3 linked regions of the Homo sapiens genome follow. The protein of the gene in region 1 interacts with the protein of each later gene in a biochemical or structural test. Each region holds a gene or a part of one and is shown on either strand. Other genes may lie near its edges.

Region 1 (7,111 bases):
CCCCTGCCAAGATCGGCTGGCCCCAGGCTCGCTCCCAAACAGGCTGCTTCCAGCTCTTTGAACCTGGAGCCCAGGGCCCAGGCAAATGGCCCTACATGTGACTTGGGGTCAGCTGGGGGTCCCAGACCAGGCTCTTCAGCTCACTGGTTCTCCATTTCCCTGGCTGCAAAATGGGGAGAAACAGCCCTGCCTGAAGTACCTCCTAGGGCCAGTGAGAGCTTCTAGCAATGTAATATCTGGGGGGAAAAAAAGCATCAAATAAAAGGACCGTGGGAATGGGCATTTTTAAAATAATCTATTCTCTTATTCAGAGTCTGCTAATTTGGGCTCATGGATCCTTGTAATTAGTGCACATTGCTAAGGTTTAATACTCCCTCTCACTACTTACACCATGTTTTGTCTAGTGGAGGGGCAGCTAATGTGTAAATAGATGTGCAATGATGAAAGAAGCAGACAGGACTCGGTTGGGGGTGGCCAGAAGGAGCCTTGAGAAATCCAGGAAGGCTTCCCAGCAGAAGTGACATTTGAGTTAAACCTAAAGAGAAAAGTAAATGGGGCCAGGTGCAGTGACTCATGCCTGTAATCCTAGCACTTTGGGAGGCCCACATGGGCAGATTGCTTGAGCCCAGGAGTTTGAGACCAGCCTGGGCAACATAGGAAGGCCCCCGTCTCTATTTAAAAAATAAATGAATATTTAAAAAGAAAGAAAAAGAAAGAAAGAGAGAGAGAGAGAGAGAAAGGAGAGAGAGAGAGACAGAAAGAAAGAAAGGAAGGAAGGAAAGAAGGAAGGAAGGAAGGAAGGAAGGAAGGAAGGAAGGAAGGAAGGAAGGAAGGAAAATGTTGGAGGACCTGTCTGTGGATGAGGGGTAAGTCCCCAGACTACAGGCCCTGGCAGGCAGAACTGAAGAGACAGAAGAGCAGATTCTCGATTGGAGGAAGCCCTGTCTGCAGTTAGTGCTGACAGCATTTGGAGGTGGTGATTTTCCCATCATGGGAGGTATGCAAGCAGAACACGAAGGATGTTTGTGGAAGGAGGTCCAGCCCAGGCCAGAAGACTATTATGATCCCTGAGAGTCTAGGATCGTGATTCTAAGATGCAAGAGACAAGTTCCACCCTGGGCTAGTCGGTGAAACATGCCAAAACCACATAAAACAAGACAAGTGTTCTCCAGGCCAACTGCTTAGGGCCAGCTGAGCAGCACAGTCAGGGAGAGCCGTGGGCTCGGGAAAGGCAGGCGGGAGAGTCTGAGCTCAGCCCTGGTGCGGGGGTAGGACTTGGACAGAGGCAAGGACATTCCTGGCAGGAGAAACGGCTTGTGCCAAGGAGTGGAGGGAGAAGTGAGGATCGCCACGGGGCCTGGGGAAGCAGCTGTTACCTTTTCAAAGTCCTTTCCAATTTCCAGCTGCTGTCATTTTATTCTCACCTCTCTCACTTGCAGAGAGGCAGGAATCCTTCGTAGCCCCTAAACCTTCTCCATTTCCTCATTGCAAAGTGGGGATTAAAACCTCGGGCTCCCCAGGCCGTCAGGTTCAGGCATGAAGTTTGGCAAATGCCACCATCATCAGGGTCTGAACGGTGGGGGTGGAGAGTGGGGACAGAGGAGATCTGGGGGAGGGGAAGCTAAGTCTTCCCCCCAGAAAGTGCCTGGGGTGCAGGAGGGCAGAACCCCAGGAGAAAGGAAGTCAGGGTTCAGCCAGGCCCAGGGGCTCAACAAGCCCAAGGCAGGGGGACTCCCAGGGCAGATGGGGATGAAACAGGTTAGAGCTGGATTCACAGACAACCACCCTGCCACCCCTCTACTTAATTCACCCATCATGTATTGAGTAACTACTGCATACCTGGCCCTGGGCCACGGACTGTGCAGTGAAATGGGAAAAAATGAAACGTAAGTGCCACTGTCTTTTTATTTTTGAGCAATTACTGTCTGCCAGGTCCAGAAGAGGACATAGCCTATTACTTGAACCCTTTTACAACTTGCAGCAACCTTGCAACCTTGCAGCAACCTTGCAACCTTGCAACAACCAAGTGATTATCTGCCCCATGTCACAAAAAAGGAAACCGATGTTCAGAGAGGTTGAGTGACTTTCCCAAGGTCGCACAGATGGTAAGAAGCAGCGAAGGCAGAATTAGAAGCCAGAGGGGTCTGTTCTGAGCACTTTGCTCTTCCCCCCACCTCCACCACACTGTTCCCTGCAGTCTGCTCTGGAGCCAGAGAGTAGAGAGGAAGGGAGAGAGGCACGTGAAGAATGAGGGAGAGGGGGAGAAAGAGGAGGAAGGAGAGAGGCCGAGGCAGAGAAAGACGCATAAGAGACTGTTGAGAGCTGGAGGCCGGAGCCAGGGAAGGCATCAGAGGCCCGAGGCGGGCCATGTGTGTGCTTGGCAGCGGATGACAGGGCCCAAGTGCTCCTTCTCAGCAGGCCCAGCCCCCCTGGGGCCACCACTCCGAGCCTTGAGGTTCTGACCAGATTACTTGCACACTTCAGGCCTGGACTGCAGTGCCTGAGGAGCCACAAGCCCTGGGAGGGGGTGGCGCCGGGGTCTTGGCTCCGGTGGCTGTGACAGCTCCACAGCCCTGACCCTGCTGGGCTGCAGCTGAGGCTGACAGGGCCCTGGGGCCAGCAAGCCCAGCTGTGCAGCGTCGCCAGGCCTCAGAGGCCAGACGTCTGGCCGCGAGGCCTCCCTGGACACATTGCAGAGACACCCGTTCCCCCAGCCCCGCCCATGCCCCACGGGGCTCCCGGCCCCTTTCAGCAAAAGCAGTAAGGGAGGGCTGGGCTGGGGCGTTGGCAAGGTGGCTTGTCAAGCTCAGAGGGGGGCCTTCTGAGGTGGAGGCAGGGCCCCCGGTTTGGGACCCTGTCTGTTGCCATGGCGATGGCTCAGGCAGGGTCTGGATCCAGCATCACAGCGTTCCCCAGTGAGAGCTTCACTGGTCCATGGGGACTGAACTCGTGATCCTGTCTGGCCGGTGAATTCGCTTTTCCTTAGGAAACTATTCACTGTGCTCATTCATGGCGTCCCCCTGCGGCCCCGGCGCCTCCTAAGACAGCCCGTGTCAGACGGCCAGAGCCCCACCCAAGCTCGGCTGCCCAGTGGCTGAGGACGCTGACCTCACGCCGTCCTATCAGTGTGGGAATGGCTGCATTTGTGCTGGCAGCTGCACCTCCTTAATGCTCGCTGTAGCAGCCCAGCCTGCCCTTCCCAAAGCTCTGGCCTCTACCCGGCAGCTCAGCTCGGGAAGGGAGTGGGCTGCCTGGTGAGAGGTGCTCAGACCCAGTGTCTTCCACCCCAGGCCCTCTCCCTGACTCCAGGGAGAACCAGGTAACACAGCAAGAACAATCATACTCTAAGGACTGGCAGCAGGGCGCAGGGGCCTGTCATCCTAGCACTTTAGGAGGCCAAGGCAGGAGGATCGCTTCCAGGAGTTCCAGACCAGCCTGGGGAACATACTGACACCCCATCTTTACAAAAAAATCAATTAGCCAGATGTGGAGGTGCACGCCTGTAGTCCCAGCTACTTGGGAGACTGAGGCAGGAGAATCGCTTGAACCTAGGAGGCAGAAGTTGCAGTGAGCTGAGATCTTGCTACTGCACTCCAGCCTGGGTGACAGAGCAAGACTCTGTCTCAAAAATAAAGCACTGGCCTGAGCTTCAATCCAGGCCCCGTCTCTTTCCAGCTGTGTGGCCCCAGGCATGTCCCTTAACCTCTCTGAGCCTGATTTCATGTCTTAAGATGATAGTCTCTGGGAGCGGTGGCTCACACCTGTAATCCCAGCACTTTGGGAGGCCGAGGCAGGCAGATCACTTGAGGTCAGGGGTTCAAGACCAGCCTGCCCAACATAGTGAAACCCTGTCTCCACTAAAAATACAGAAATTAGCCGTGCTTGGTGGCATGCACCTGTAATCCCAGCTACTCAGGAGGCTGAGGCAGCAGAATCGCTTGACCCAGGCAGACGGAGGTTGCAGTGAGCTGAGATCCCACCACTGCACTCCAGCCTGGGTGAAAGGCCAAGACTCCGTCTCAGTCTCAAACAAAACAAAATGATGATAGTAAGCCCTGCCCTTCCAACTTCACAGGCCGATTTCAAAGAGCAAGAATGAGAACACACTTTGTAAACAGAAACTGCTCTGGAGACAAGCAATGTCATTATTGCCATCAGCATTATTCTTGTTTCCATGTAATTGTGGGTTTTGCCATTGAAAGTAATGGCAAAAATCGCAGTTACTTTTGCACCAGCCTAATAGTTCTGGCTCCTGGAGGACTGACTCTACCTGTTTCCTTTCAGGGGTCCCTGGGGCCATTCCTGGTGGAGTTCCTGGAGGAGTCTTTTATCCAGGTAACGTACATGAAACTTCCACACACCCAGGTCATGCGGATGATGCTGATGTCCATAATAGATGCACATTTTGACACTACAGAAGGTAGGAACATTGACACGCCTACCAGAAGTCACACCCACTTAAAAATGCAATTAACAAGACATTGATTTACAGCTATTAAGAGCATACAGGCTGGACATGGTGGCTTATGCCTGTAATCTCAACACTCTGGGAGGCAGAGAAACAAGGATTGCTTGAGGCCAGGAGTTTCAGACCAGCCTGGACAACATAGTGAGATCCCCCTCTCTACACACACACACACACACAAATTTAAAATTAGCCATGTTCTGCATTGAGAAAAATGAAAATGAAGTATAGAAATTAAAAAAAAATTAGCTGGGCATAGTGGTGCACGCCTGTAGTCCTAGCTACTGGGGAGGCTGAGGCAGGAGGATCACTTGAGCTTAGGAGTTCAAGGCTGCAGTGAGCTATAATAGCACCACTGCACTGAAGTCTGGGTGACAGAGTAAAACCCTGTCTCTAAAAAGAAAAGGGGAAAAAAAGAAAAGAAAAATCAAAAGTAATACTTTCAATACTTAAAAAGTATTTGAGGCCAGGCACGGTGGCTCAAGCCTGTAATCCCAGCACTTTGGGAGGCTGAGGCAGGCGGATCACAAGGTCAGGAGATCAAGACCATCCTGGCTAACACGGTGAAACCCTGTCTCTACTAAAAATACAAAAAATTAACCAGGTGTGGTGGCGAGAGCCTCTAGTCCCAGCTACTCGGGAGGCTAAGGCAGGAGAATGATGTGATTGAACCCAGGAGGCGGAGCTTACAGTGAGCCGAGATCGCGCCACTGCACTCCAGCCTGGGCGACAGAGGGAGACTCCGTATAAAAAAAAATTAAAAAATTAAAAAAAGCATTTGAGTGTACAGAAGTGACCTGGAAGTGGGGAGAGACGCCAGCACTCCCCCAGATACATACTGACACTGGACTACTGGCCAAGCAGAAGAGAAAACCGAGGCTTGCAGAGAGCAGGTCTTGCCCAAGGTCACGTAGTTAGGCAGAGGTGGATTCAGCCATAGCTGGGGGTGGCAGCGGGCTTGCCTGGCAGAAGTACCGATGATCTCTCTTTCTCTTTCTCTCCCCCCACAGGGGCTGGTCTCGGAGCCCTTGGAGGAGGAGGTGAGCTCAGAAACCACACTTGTTCATCACTGAAAGGGCCTGGGTTTCACCCGAGCCACATGCATCCTCAGACCTGAGAACCCTGGGAGACCCGAGCATCAAGGACTCCCTCATTTCACAGACAGCATCCAGGCGGTGGGAGGAGGCTTCTTTGAGAACCAGAACCCATTGGCCTTCCCAGTCCCTCCCCTAGACTTTATGTCTGGTGCCCTCTGCCTTCCTATTTCTTCTTTTTTTTGGTGGGGGAGGACGGGGGGACAGAGTCTCGTTCTGTCGCCCAGGCTGGAGTGCAGTGGCGTGATCTCAGCTCACTGCAGCATCTGCCTCCCAGGTTCAAGTGATGCTCCTCCCTCAGCCTCCCAATTAGCGAGGACTACAGGCGCGTGCCACCACGCCCAGCTTATTTTTGTATTTTTTCTAGAGACAGGGTTTCATCATGTTGGCCAGGCTGGTCTCGAACTCCCAACTTCAAGTGATCTGCCTGACTCGGCCTCTCAAAGTGCTGGGATTACAGGCGTGAGCCACCTTGCCCGGCCCCTTGCCCGGCCCCTTCCTATTTCTTTTTATCCTCAAAAACCTCCCTGCCAAGCCGGCTGAGCAGGCACCATCTTCTTTTTTTTTTTTTTGAGACAAAGTCTTGCTCTTGTCACCCAGGCTGGAGTGCAGTGGCGCGATCTCAGCTCACTGTAACCTCCACCTCCCAGGTTCAGGTGATTCTCCTGCCTCAGCCTCCTGAGTAGCTGGGATTACAGGCACATGCCACCACGCCTGGCTAATTTTTGTATTTTTAGTAGAGACAGGGTTTCACCATGTTTGCCAGGCTGGTCTCAAACTCCTGACCTCAGATGATCCGCCTGCCTCAGCTTCCCAAAGTGCTAGGATTACAGGCGTGAGCCACCACCCCCAGCCCATCATCCCCTTTTGAGGCTGAGACTCTGGGACTCAGAGAGTATAAACCACGAGTTAGAAGTAGAGCTAGGTTCCCAGGGGCTCCAAGTCTGAGCGGGAGGACCTGGGGTGTGTGATTCCACACTGCCCACACTTTGCCCGGGTTGGGGGTTGGATAAGTAGTAGATGGATAAGCTGGGCCACCCCATTCACTATCTTCTCTTCCCTCTGCAGCGCTGGGGCCTGGAGGCAAACCTCTTAAGCCAGGTAAGACCCAAGGCCTCGGAGCATTGAGAGACAGCGAGGGAGCTGGGGAGGGAGGAGCCTACCCAGCTGGGAATGGGACAAGGAAACTAGGAACAGGACAAGGAAGCCAACGGGCAGGAGGAAGGAGGGAGGTGTGGACACCGATTAGCCTCCCAAGGATGAGTAGGCCGGGGCCAGGTCCCAGGGCTTCCAGGAACAAGAGGCTGGAAGCAGCTCCATGTCCTCCCTGTGTGAGGGCGTCTAGCATCTACCCTACATGTGCATGTGTGTTCACCCAGCTGTCCAGAGACTCCTCTCTGCAAAGGAGAGGCTGTTAGAGGCAACATCAGGGATTGCTCCGGTTCCAGTGGCCTCCAAGCCTTACATGACCCTCGGGAGCTCAGACACAGATCCTCAGCCCCAGACTTCCCCTGAGTGGTCCCCTAGCCCTTGACCCCAGACCAATACCCCA
Region 2 (7,131 bases), on another chromosome or scaffold:
GTCGTAGTTGTTCAGAAACACCTGAGCCACCGAGAAGTGCTGCTGGGTGGGCTCCTGCGTCCGCACGTTGTGGGCTCCGAGCACCACGTTCACCAGGCGCTGGGGTCTGCGGGGGTGGGGTGGTCACTCCTCGGCGCCCTGGACACTCGCCGCCGCCCACAGCCGGCCCTTCCCGAGGCCGCGGTGCAGCCCCAGACCCCTCCCTCGGCGACCCTGCCCCGGGCCTCCCCCCAGAACTGCCCACGCGCGCGGGGCCTGGGGTCTGCAGACGGGGCTTAGCTGGGTCCTCCCCGGGCAGAGGGACAGTGGCCGGGCCAGGGCTGGAGGAAGAGGGCGGGGCGGGCGGACAGGGGTGTGGAGGCGGCCGCTCACATGTCCCGCAGGCAGTGCGCGGCCGTCAGCACGAAGCTGGGGTGGATCAAGGTGCCTCCGCAGAAGTGGCTGCCCGGGTTCCCCCGCATCTGCAGGGAGGCCATGTAGGGCCGGGAGTGTGGCTGCGCCTCGTGCCCGCCCACGATCTCCGCAGCTCGGGCAGCACCTGCAGGGGGGGAGTCCAGGCGTCAGGGAGCCCCCAGGCTGCAGGGAAAGGGGGGATGGCAGAGCAGCCCCTGGGCCTCTCCGAGCCTCCGTCTCCCGATCTGCAACCCGGTCAGTGCCTGCTGGCTGGTGGGAAGGACTCAGCGCCCAGGCCGGGGGGGTTATAATTACGACGATTTCCAAAGGCGCCCTGGTGGCAGCTTTCAGTCCTGAGAGTCAGGAAGGCTTTTAAGACGCAGACCAGGTGGCTGGGTGCAGTGGCTCACGCCTGTAATCCCAACACTTTGGGAGGCCGAGGCAGGAGGCTCCCTTGAGCTCAGGAGTTCAAGACCAGCCTGGGCAAAATTGTGAGGACCCCATCTCTACAAAAAATTTTAAAATTAGCCAGGCATGGTGGTGTGCACCTGTCGTCCCAGCTACTTGGGAGGCTGAGGAGGGAGGATCGCTTGAGCCCAGGAGGTCAAGGCTGCAGTGAACTGAGATCACACCACTGCACTCCAGCCTGGGCAACAGAGCAAGACCCTGTCTCTAAAACAAAATTTAAAAAAATGTTTTTAAAGAAGCAGAAAAATTGGTCGGGTGCGGTTGGCCCACGCCTGTAATCCCAATACTTTGGGAGGCCGAGGTGGGTGGATCACCTGAGGTCAAGAGATGGAGACCATCCTGGCCAACATGGTGAAACCCTGTCTCTACTAAAAATACAAACATTAGCTGGGCGTGGTGGCACGTGCCTGTAGTCCCAGCTACTCCGGAGGTTGACGCAGGAGAATCGCTTGAACCCAGGAAGCGGAGGTTGTGGTGAGCCAAGATCGCCCCACTGCACTCCAGCCTGGCAACAGAATGACACTCCGTCTCAAAAAAAAAAAAAAAAAAAATTAGCCAGGTGTGGTGGTTCGCACCTGTAATCTCAGCTGCCTGGGAGGCTGAGGCAGGAGAATCGCTTGAACCCAGGAGGCACAGGTTGCAGTGAGCCGAGATCACACCACTGCACTCCAGCCTGGGCAACAGAGTGAGATTCTGTCTCAAAAAAAAAAAAAAAAAAAAAAAATCCTGGGCGCAGTGGCTCATGCCTGAGTGAGACCCCATCTCAAAAAAACAAAACAAAACAAAATAAAAAAAAAGAAGCAAAAAAAAAAAAAAAAATCAGCCAACAAAGAGACCCATTTTGCAGATGAACAAACTGAGGCATTGAAAATCCCCCTCAGGTCAGGAGTTCGAGACCAGCCTGACCAACGTGGTGAAACCCCATCTCTACTAAAAATACAAAAACTAGCCAGGTGTGGTGGTGTGTGCTTGTAATCCCAGCTACTCAAGAGGCGGAGGCAGGAGAATCATTTGACCCCAGGAGGCTGAGGCTGCAGTAAACTGAGATTGCACCACTGCACTCCAGCCTGGGCGACAGAGCAAGATTCCGTTTCAAAAAAGAAAAAAAAAGGGCCAGGCGCGGTGGCTCACGCCTGTAATCCCAGCACTTTGGGAGGCTGAGGCAGGCGGATCACGAAGTCAGGAGATCGAGACCATCCTGGCTAACACCTTGAAACCCCGTCTCTACAAAAATTACAAAAAATTATCCAGGCATGGTGGTGGGCGCCTGTAGTCCCAGCTACTCGGGAGGCTGAGGCAGGAGAAAGGCGTGAACCCGGGAGGCTGAGCTTGCAGTGAGCCGAGATCGCGCCACTGCACTCCAGCCTGGGCGACAGGGCGAGACTCCGTCTCAAAAAAAAAAAAAAGAAAAAGAAAAAGAAAATCACCCTCAGGATAGGGACCTGAGGGGGCCCATGCTCTCTTCTTCCCCTGATTCCAGCATCACTAACTCCTCGACCCTTTCACTCACTCACTCATTCATTCATTCACTCATTCATTCGTTCACTCATTCACTCATTCACTCATTCATTCACTCATTCACTCATTCATTCACTCACTCATTGATTCATTCACTCATTCATTCGTTCACTCATTCACTCATTCACTCATTCATTCACTCACTCATTGATTCATTCACTCATTCATTTGTTCACTCATTCACTCACTCACTCATTCATTCACTCATTCATTCATTCATGCATATTCACTGAGCATTTGCTGAAGGCTGGGTGCTGTCCAGGAATTCGCCTGTTACTAGCTAATTCCCAAAACAGCTCCTCAGGAGGGAAGGGCTGGGTTTTGCCCGTTTTACAGATAGGCAACTGAGTCAAATGGCCAGGGCTCCCCCTTGCCCTTGTCCTCCCCACCCCTGCAAGCGTTGGTCCCGAGCAGTGAGTGGAGTCTCCCCTGACCCTGCCTCAGTTTCCCCAGCTGTGCCAGAAGGGCTTTGGATGGACCTCGTGGTGGATATTTCCCCACAATCCACCGGGGCCTGGAGGCTGGATGGATGGGCACGTGGCTCACTCACCGCTCAGCAGCAAGGCCAGCAGCACGGACGCCAGGGCAGGGCTGGGGGGCCGGTGAGCCATGGTGGGGTCCAGGGTGCACCCACGGTCAAGCTCCTCTTATAGCCCAATGCCAGAGGCCGTTGAGTTGCCCAATGCCCAGGCTGGGTCCCCACTTCCTCCTTTTGCCTTGGGAGCCTGGGAGTCAGAACGGACTCCGGGGAGGAGGTGGGGGCTTTGGGCTCAAGGTCCCAACCTTTGTGGGGGCGGGGAGGCTGGCTGTCACCCACCCAAGTCGGGGGTCCCTGGCCAGGTGGGCAACATGGCCACAGCCCTCAGAGCAACACATGCCCACGTGCCACCCACAAGGAGACGCCTCCCTGACGAGGTCCCTGTGGCCCCAGCAAAGCCGGCCGTGGCAGGTGTGTCCCGTGGGTGGGTGAGCTGGAAACGGACAGACAGCAGGACGTAGCAGGGGACAGGATGCAGAGCTCGGGAAGGCAGGGCCCCACCACGAGTGCCCTCAGTGCCTCACCTGAGGCCCCAGCGAACATCCTCCTGCCAGTTTTGTCTGGGGGTTTTCTTCCCCCTTTAAGGCCAGGATTCTCAATCAAGAGGTGATTCTGCCCCCAGGGGACCCTGGGCGAGGTCTGAGGACACCTGTGGCTGTCACGAAAGGGGAGCTCCTGGCATGGAGTGGGTGGAGGCCAAGGATGATGCCTAGCACCCTGCAGTGCCCAGGACGGGCCTGCCCCAGAGAAGGATCCAGCCCCGATGTCCACAGGGCCCAGGGGAGAGACCAGTGTTCATTATTTGGGGAAAAAAATGGCCAGGTGCGGTGCCTCACACCTGTAATCCCAGCACTTTGGGAGGCCGAGGCGGGTGGATCGCCTGAGGTCAGGAGTTCAAGACCAGCCTGGCCAACATAGTGAAACCCCATCTCTACTAAAAATACAAAAATTAGCTGCGCGTGTTGGCGGGCGCCTGTAGTCCCAGCTACTCAGGAGGCTGAGGCAGGAGAATCACTTGAGCCTGGGAGGCGAAGGTTGCAGGGAGCCAAGATCGTGCCACTGCACTCCAGCCTGGGCAACAGAGCAAGACTCCATCTCAAAACATAAATAAATAAAAATAAAAAATAAAAAATCCAGTCTGCCCCCTGCTCACACCGGACACCAGAATAAACTCCCGATGGGGCGTACGGCATAAACCCGGGGGACCCCAGCTCCCGGGACTCGCCTCCTCTCTCCCTCCCACTCAGGGTGTGGATTTCAATGTGTGCAGCCTCCTGGGACCTCAGCAGGGCAGAGGATCATGGGACTCAGAGTCTCTTGGGGTCTGTGGAATCCTCTAACCCTGGGGTGATTCTGCCCCCAGGGGTCCCTGTGTGAGGCCTGGAGACATCCGTGGTTGTCACGACTTGGAGGGAGCTCCTGGCAGGGCCCTGCAGTGCCCAGGATGGCCCCGCCGCAGAGACAAATCCAGCCCCCATGTCTGCAGTGCCGGAAACGGGGGAAAGCCGAGGACAGAGGATAAAATTATTTATTTATAACTGAACGGTTTAAACCTACAGTGAAATGGAGAGAAGCACTGAATGAACTTGGAGGCCAAAAAGAAAAAAAGCTTTTTAACGTTTCATTTGGAAAGGATTTCACGCTTACAGAAGTCCAAAGGGTCCAAACTCCCTCCCCGCTCCCCAAACTCCCTCCCCCGGCCTCCCTCCCCCAGCTTCCCTAAATTCTGTCCTCTTGCTCAACCCTCCAGGCTGTGATCGAAGCCAGGGCGCGAAAGTTGATTCCAAATGGCCCCCTCTGCCCCAGCCCCCTGAGTATCACCAGCCACCCTTTGCTGGGTCCTGGGTACACAAGCCACCCATCTTCAGATGTCAGGGTCTCCTCCAGCGGGCGCAGTCCCTCTGCCCTCCCTCAGCCCTTGGGACCATTGAGGAGAGCTGGTGGTCACTCTGCAGAGCGTCCCTCCGTGGGGATGGTCCTGGGTGGCCTCAGGACTCAATGGAGGGAGTCCCGGGCGTGGCGTGTGTCTGTCTCAGGCCCCCCACGTCGAAGCCCATGGCTTCGGCCTGTCTCGTGCTGATGGTAATAACCTTGACCACGTGGTCAGGGCATCTGCCGGTTCCTGCACTGTCCAGTTACTGTTTTCCCCTTTGGATTTTTTTTTTTTTTTGAGACAGAGTCTCGCTCTGTCACCAGGCTGGAGAGCAGTGGTGCGATCTCAGCTCACTGCAATCTCCGCCTCCCGGGTTCAAACAATTCTCCTGCCTCAGCCTCCTGTATAGCTGGGATTATAGACGCCCACCACCACGCCTGGCTAATTTTTTTTTTTTTTTGTATTTTTAGTAAAGACGGGGTTTCACTATATTGGCCAGGCTGGTCTCGAACTCCTGACCTCAGGTGACCCGCCCGTAATCCCGCCAAAGTGCTGGGAACACAGGTGTGAGCCACTGCACCTGGCTATATTAATGTATATAACATAGATGTATACATAAAATATGTAGCATGTATATTATTTACATTATATAATATATAATATTTTAAAATATACATATATATTTTTTGAGACAGGGTCTGGCTGTGTCACCCAGGCTGGAGTGCAGTGGTGTAATCATGGCTCACTGCAGCCTCGACCTCCTGGGCTCAAGCAATTCTCCTGCCTCAACCCCCCAAGTAGCTGGGACCACAGGCATGCTCCACCATGTCCAGCTAAAGTTTTTCTTTCTTTTTTTTTTTTTTTTTGGTTGGCTGTTTAATTTTTTGTAGAAATGGGGTCTTGCTATGTTGCCCTGGCTGGTCTTGAACTGCCAGCCTTCAGGGACGCTCCTGCCTTGACCTCCCCAAATGCTGGGATCACAGGCATGAGCCACCATGACCGACCTGATGTGTATTAAAGAACTAGAGCTGTGGGCCGGGCGCGGTGGCTCACGCCTGTAATCCCAGCACTTTGGGAGGCCGAGGCGGGCGGATCACGAGGTCAGGAGATCGAGACCATCCTGGCTAACACGGTGAAACCCCGTTTCTACTAAAAATACAAAAAATTAGCCGGGCGTGGTAGCGGGCGCCTGTAGTCCCAGCTACTCGGGAGGCTGAGGCAGGAGAATGGCGTGAACCCGGGAGGCGGAGCTTGCAGTGAGCAGAGATTGTGCCACTGCACTCCAGCCTGGGCGACAGAGCGAGACTCCGTCTCAAAAAAAAAAAAAAGAAAAAGAACTAGAGCTGTGGCCGGGCGCGGTGGCTGTTGCCTGTAATCCCAGCACTTTGGGAGGCTGAGGCAGATGGATCACAAGGTCAGGAGTTCAAGACCAGCCTGGGCAACATGGTGAAACCCCGACTCTACTAAAAATACAAAAATTAGCTGGGTGTGGTGGCAGATGCCTGTAATCCCAGCTACTTGGGAGGCTGAGGGAGGAGAATTACTTGAACCCGGGAGGTGGAGGGGGCAGTGAGCTGAGATCGCGTCACTGCACTCCAGCCTGGGCAACAGAGCGAGACACCGTCTCAAAATAAAAGGGTTATTCTCATTCAACAAAAGTGCTGTTGGTTTCAGCCATGAGTCAGCTCATGCTGAGGCAAGCTGTTTGGCTTGCAGTCCTCAGTTTCCCCACCTGTAAAGGCGGGTGAGGACGGTAATAGGACCTTCTGCAGGGCAGCAGTGGGGGTCGACGGATTTGAGGTTTCTTGATTTGTTTTTACATGGAGTTTTGTTCTTGTCACCCAGGCTGGAGTGCAGTGGTGTGACCTTGGCTTCCTGGGTTCAAGCCATTCTCCTGCGTCAGCCTCCTAAGTAGCTGGGATTACAGGCACCTGCCACCACGCCTGAATAATTTGTTTTTTGTATTTGTAGTAGAGACGGGATTTCACCATGTTGGCCAGGCTGGTCTCGAACTCCTGACCTCAGGTGATCCGCCGGCCTCAGCCTCCCAAAGTGCTGGGATTACAGGCGTGAGCCACCGCGCCCTGCCTTTTTTTTTTTTTAATAGAGAGGGGTCTTGCTATGCTGCCCAGGCTCGTCTGGAACTCCTGGGCTCCAGCGATCCTCCCCCACCATCTGGCCACTACCGAATTGTTAAGTGGGTGAATTGCTTGGTGTGTGTGAAGGACATCTCAATAAAGCTGTCAACCAAAAAAAAAAGAAAAGAAAGAAAAGAAAGACCTTGCACACACACTGCTGGATCTAGCACACGCGAGAGCTGCCCAGGGGGCTGCCCCGTCCT
Region 3 (5,565 bases), on another chromosome or scaffold:
TTGCTCCAGCAATATGACTGTACAAGAGGGATTCCTGATGTGGTCACTCATATAGAGTTGAATTTTTTTTTTTTTTTTTTTTTTTACTAGTTATTACTGACTGTAACAAACTTCAAGAGTGGTTGAAGCTGGAATGTTTATAACTAATATAAACCAGATGAAAATATGAAAAGTGAAATTATAATTAGTGATCATAATAAAATGTCATACTTATTCTGAGTGGAAATATTGGGGAAAGTATAGAATATTTGAGAAAAAAACCCCACACCTTCAGGATAGTAATACTTGCTTCTTACATTTTGACTTTCACATCAGGCCTTCCTTCCTAGGAATCAGAGTTCAGACAGAGGAGAGGTCTCTTTGGGCTGAGTTTCAGGAGTGACTTTAGGATACATTTGAATTGAGCCTTGAAGTCTGGGGAATGCACCGGGGAGCATTAAGGAAAGGAAGCCCAGGGCAAGTCAACGTCACAGGCAACTTGCATGGCAGGAGGAAACTGCAGGGCATGTTTGGAAAAACAAGTCTTCTAGTTTGGCTAAAGCATGAATTTTGTGGAGTTACGAGTTGGACAAAAAGGATGGAAAAGTAAGTTGAGCCAGATGGAAGACAGCCCTGAAGAGCAGGCTAAAATTTATTCTGGAGGCAGTGGGAGGCTGAAGCTTTTTGAGCAGGAAGTGTAACTTGCCTAAGGCCATCAGGTCAGTCTGGTGGCTGTGTAAGCAGCAGTGAGTGTGACTCTGAAGACATATCATGTATCAGTTCACTGATTGCTTTTCCTGCCAGATATTTAAGAGCATTCTGTTGATGTGTAAAAGCCACCCAGTAAATAGTTGAATAGGTATGTGCTGTTAATGTACCCTCTCTCCTTCATTTTCCTCACTGAAACAAAATGTACGGACCAGGTGACTCTGAGGCTTCTTTCAGTTATAAGATACTATGTAAGTTTTTTTTTTTCTCCTCACAGAATTTACTGTTTGGAAATTGGTAGTTTATGATTTGAATAAGTGAATTTTCACTTCCTTACATGAAGATCTATGGTCACATTTAAAGACAGTAATATTTGATTGATTAGCTTTGGTCCAGTTTCTGCCTATTAATGTATTATTCTACATCCAAAGCCATGCTGGAGAAGGACTAATTCAAGATGGAGCAGAGGCCTTGACTCTACTTCTTGGTGGACATGCCACCCTTGTTCCATGGAATGAATTCCCCTGGTCAGGGATGCTGGTCCCAGAAGTCCTGCTGTACTCTTGAGTGTTTCAGAAGTGGTTTCTTTGCCTCTAAATGTGAAGAGTGTAGGCATCAGGCATCTCTGCTGTTGACATAGTCACTTTCTTCAAACCATTATTAAAATGATGTACTACTGCATAATTTCACAACATGATTGCTGCTTAGGTGGAGGGAAACTGTTGCATAAAGTTTTTAAAAGGTTGACTTTAAATTTGTCTGTTGTACTCATTCATTATATTATCAGGTTAATAATTTGTCTTATTTTGTCTTCTTAATCTAGGTATTAGAAGGCAAAGCAAAACTCCCAATGGATAAATCAGTGCCTGGTGTTCTGAAGTGGGAAAAAATAGACTAACTTCAGTAGGATTTATGTATTTTGAAAAAGAGAACAGAAAACAACAAAAGAATTTTTGTTTGGACTGTTTTCAATAACAAAGCACATAACTGGATTTTGAACGCTTAAGTCATCATTACTTGGGAAATTTTTAATGTTTATTATTTACATCACTTTGTGAATTAACACAGTGTTTCAATTCTGTAATTACATATTTGACTCTTTCAAAGAAATCCAAATTTCTCATGTTCCTTTTGAAATTGTAGTGCAAAATGGTCAGTATTATCTAAATGAATGAGCCAAAATGACTTTGAACTGAAACTTTTCTAAAGTGCTGGAACTTTAGTGAAACATAATAATAATGGGTTTATATATGTCATAGCATAGATGAATTTAGAAACAATGCTCCTACTGTTTAAATACATATGGACACATCTGGTGCTGAGAAAGAAACAAACACATTACCATTGGTGTCAAGAAATATTACTATATAGCAGAGAAATGGCAATACATGTACTCAGATAGTTACATCCCTATATAAAAAGTATGTTTACATTTAAAAAATTAGTAGATAACTTCCTTTCTTTCAAGTGCACAATTTCATTTTGACTTGAGTCAACTTTTGTTTTGGAACAAATTAAGTAAGGGAGCTGCCCAATCCTGTCTGATATTTCTTGAGGCTGCCCTCTATCATTTTATCTTTCCCATGGGCAGAGATGTTGTAAGTGGGATTCTTAATATCACCATTCTTGGGACTGGTATACATAAGGCAGCCGTGAAACTGGAAAGTCATTTTGATGACTGATGTGATACATCCAGAGGTAAAATGCATTTAAACATATTAAAGTATTTGCCAAAGATACAATTTTCTTGCTGACATAAAAATCACACAAACAAGTCCCCCCCAAACCACAACTGTCTCTCAAATAGCTTAAAAAAATTGAAAAACATTTTAGGATTTTTCAAGTTTTCTAGATTTTAAAAAGATGTTCAGCTATTAGAGGAATGTTAAAAATTTTATATTATCTAGAACACAGGAACATCATCCTGGGTTATTCAGGAATCAGTCACACATGTGTGTGTGTCTGAGATATAGTCTAAATTAGCAAAGCACATAGTATTACATACTTGAGGGGTTGGTGAACAAAGGAAAAATATACTTTCTGCAAAACCAAGGACTGTGCTGCGTAATGAGACAGCTGTGATTTCATTTGAAACTGTGAAACCATGTGCCATAATAGAATTTTGAGAATTTTGCTTTTACCTAAATTCAAGAAAATGAAATTACACTTTTAAGTTAGTGGTGCTTAAGCATAATTTTTCCTATATTAACCAGTATTAAAATCTCAAGTAAGATTTTCCAGTGCCAGAACATGTTAGGTGGAATTTTAAAAGTGCCTCGGCATCCTGTATTACATGTCATAGAATTGTAAAGTCAACATCAATTACTAGTAATCATTCTGCACTCACTGGGTGCATAGCATGGTTAGAGGGGCTAGAGATGGACAGTCATCAACTGGCGGATATAGCGGTACATATGATCCTTAGCCACCAGGGCACAAGCTTACCAGTAGACAATACAGACAGAGCTTTTGTTGAGCTGTAACTGAGCTATGGAATAGCTTCTTTGATGTACCTCTTTGCCTTAAATTGCTTTTTAGTTCTAAGATTGTAGAATGATCCTTTCAAATTGTAATCTTTTCTAACAGAGATATTTTAATATACTTGCTTTCTTAAAAAACAAAAAAACTACTGTCAGTATTAATACTGAGCCAGACTGGCATCTACAGATTTCAGATCTATCATTTTATTGATTCTTAAGCTTGTATTAAAAACTAGGCAATATCATCATGGATACATAGGAGAAGACACATTTACAATCATTCATTGGGCCTTTTATCTGTCTATCCATCCATCATCATTTGAAGGCCTAATATATGCCAAGTACTCACATGGTATGCATTGAGACATAAAAAAGACTGTCTATAACCTCAATAAGTATTAAAAATCCCATTATTACCCATAAGGTTCATCTTATTTCATTTTTAGGGAATAAAATTACATGTCTATGAAATTTCAATTTTAAGCACTATTGTTTTTCATGACCATAATTTATTTTTAAAAATAAATTAAAGGTTAATTATATGCATGTATGTATTTCTAATAATTAAAAATGTGTTCAATCCCTGAAATGTCTGCCTTTTAAATATAACACCTACTATTTGGTTAATTTTGACGATTTTTTTTTTTCAATTAGGAAGCTAAAAATACTACTTTATTCCTTATATGAACATTCATCCCCCTCCTGGCACCTCTAAACACACCCAAATAACTCACAAGTACTGATTTAACACTCTGTATTACTGAACTTCTTTGAACTATTTTGAACTTTGAATCTCTTCTCTGAATAACTGCCGAAACTCAAAGATAATAATTAGTTGATGAAGGTTATCAATTAATAAAATAACACAGACCAGTCTTACCAAACTCTAAATACATTTTAAAAAATAGGAACTGGCAATGATAAAAAGAATGTTGAGTACTGACAGGAGATTGGCTTTTACACTAAAAAAGACAGAAAATGGACTAAATAGGAACATAATTTCAGAGTTTATGAGTCAGTTTACAATATGCCATATTAGCGATCTCATGATGATTCAGACCACAGTCTGGGTTAAAGATGTCTTGACCTCTGAGGCTAGCATAACATATATGAGAATACAACTTGCCTATTTCCAGAAAATCTGTATATTTTTATAGAATAACTTTATTTACAATTTCTATCATCCAATTACTCACTAGGCATTATTTGTAGTACTTTTTTTCTCTTTGAAATCTCATAGGATAGTCACACTTATAAACATTCCCAATATTCGGATTCTAGAAGAAATGCAATTCATTAAAATTTTCCTGGCACTGAGAGTTAATCTTTAGCAGATTGCATGAAAATACTGAATTCCTGGTAAGGAGATATTTTGTTTTAAAAATAATGTGTTTTGATACGAATCAGTGTATTAACTGATAACTAAAAAGTACTCTTTTTTCTATATATACATATTTTTTTGAACTCATATTCACAATCAACATATTCAATCAGTGAGTTAAGTCTCATTCCTAGCTACCAAAATTCCTGGGCCACTTTTAAACACTAAACATTTCATTTATCCTCTAAGCTAAAATGGTGCTGAGTTATTTAAATCTGAATGTAAAATGCATTAAATCTTAGCTTGTGGTATATAAACATTTAATTAATATAAAACTGCTTGCTATAAACTAAGTAACATGTCATTTGGTGTTAGGTTTTTAGTGAAGTTTTAGCTTCTCCCAAATTTTTCAGGAATGTTATTTGTAAGACGTGTAACTTTTTTGAAGAACTCTTATTTTAAATGCTCAGACATTGGCTTTATGTTCCTCTTTGCATTCTCATATTCTTTTATTATACATCTATACTATGATTGCAAGATTATATAAAAATGCCTTGAATAAATGATTTCAAGTGTCTATAGTAGTCATTTGTTGTTATATAAATAAATCATCTGATTTTCATTTTAGTTGAAATGTTATAAGCCATGGATATGGTGTTAGTTTCTCTTAATTGCCTTTTGTACTAAAAAATTGTTTAATTAGGTCACACTGGAAATTTGTCTATGATGGATAAAAATCTAGCTGATGTTTTAAGTAGACACTGTCATACATAAACTTTTATCACCAGTACCAGCTACTTATAAGGACACAGAGCAGGCATTGCAAGAACAATCACACTGCTTTAATTAAGGTTTACAAGAAATATATCTGACTATAGATATAAACACACACATACACACACACACATCTAATTCTAGCTACAAATTATTTGTATAAAGAGACACATTGCTATCATAGTAATCCTTATTTAAATATGCACCAGATTAGCCTGAAATCTGGTAACATGAGAGGGCAAACAGGCCCAAACTTTGGGCAAGTGTTTTGGGGGAACAACTCACAAAATTAACCCACAAAAA

What was found.
Region 2: of the proteins of ELN (region 1) and PRTN3, one has a biochemical effect on the other in vitro, tested with the Homo sapiens proteins (one study listed by BioGRID).
Region 3: the proteins of ELN (region 1) and LOX form a complex in vitro, tested with the Homo sapiens proteins (2 studies listed by BioGRID and IntAct).

What each region holds. Positions count from the first base shown.
Region 1 is NC_000007.14:74,031,080-74,038,190, forward strand, and holds part of ELN (elastin isoform a precursor), read left to right. Parts: intron 1-4,284; coding exon 4,285-4,335; intron 4,336-5,475; coding exon 5,476-5,505; intron 5,506-6,627; coding exon 6,628-6,660; intron 6,661-7,111. UniProt on the Homo sapiens protein: Major structural protein of tissues such as aorta and nuchal ligament, which must expand rapidly and recover completely.
Region 2 is NC_000019.10:836,868-843,998, reverse strand, and holds the start of PRTN3 (myeloblastin precursor), read right to left. Parts: upstream 3,001-7,131; 5' UTR 2,991-3,000; coding exon 2,930-2,990; intron 539-2,929; coding exon 373-538; intron 107-372; coding exon 1-106. UniProt on the Homo sapiens protein: Serine protease that degrades elastin, fibronectin, laminin, vitronectin, and collagen types I, III, and IV (in vitro).
Region 3 is NC_000005.10:122,062,695-122,068,259, reverse strand, and holds the end of LOX (protein-lysine 6-oxidase isoform 1 preproprotein), read left to right. Parts: intron 1-1,510; coding exon 1,511-1,517; 3' UTR 1,518-5,065; downstream 5,066-5,565. UniProt on the Homo sapiens protein: Responsible for the post-translational oxidative deamination of peptidyl lysine residues in precursors to fibrous collagen and elastin. Regulator of Ras expression. May play a role in tumor suppression. Plays a role in the aortic wall architecture.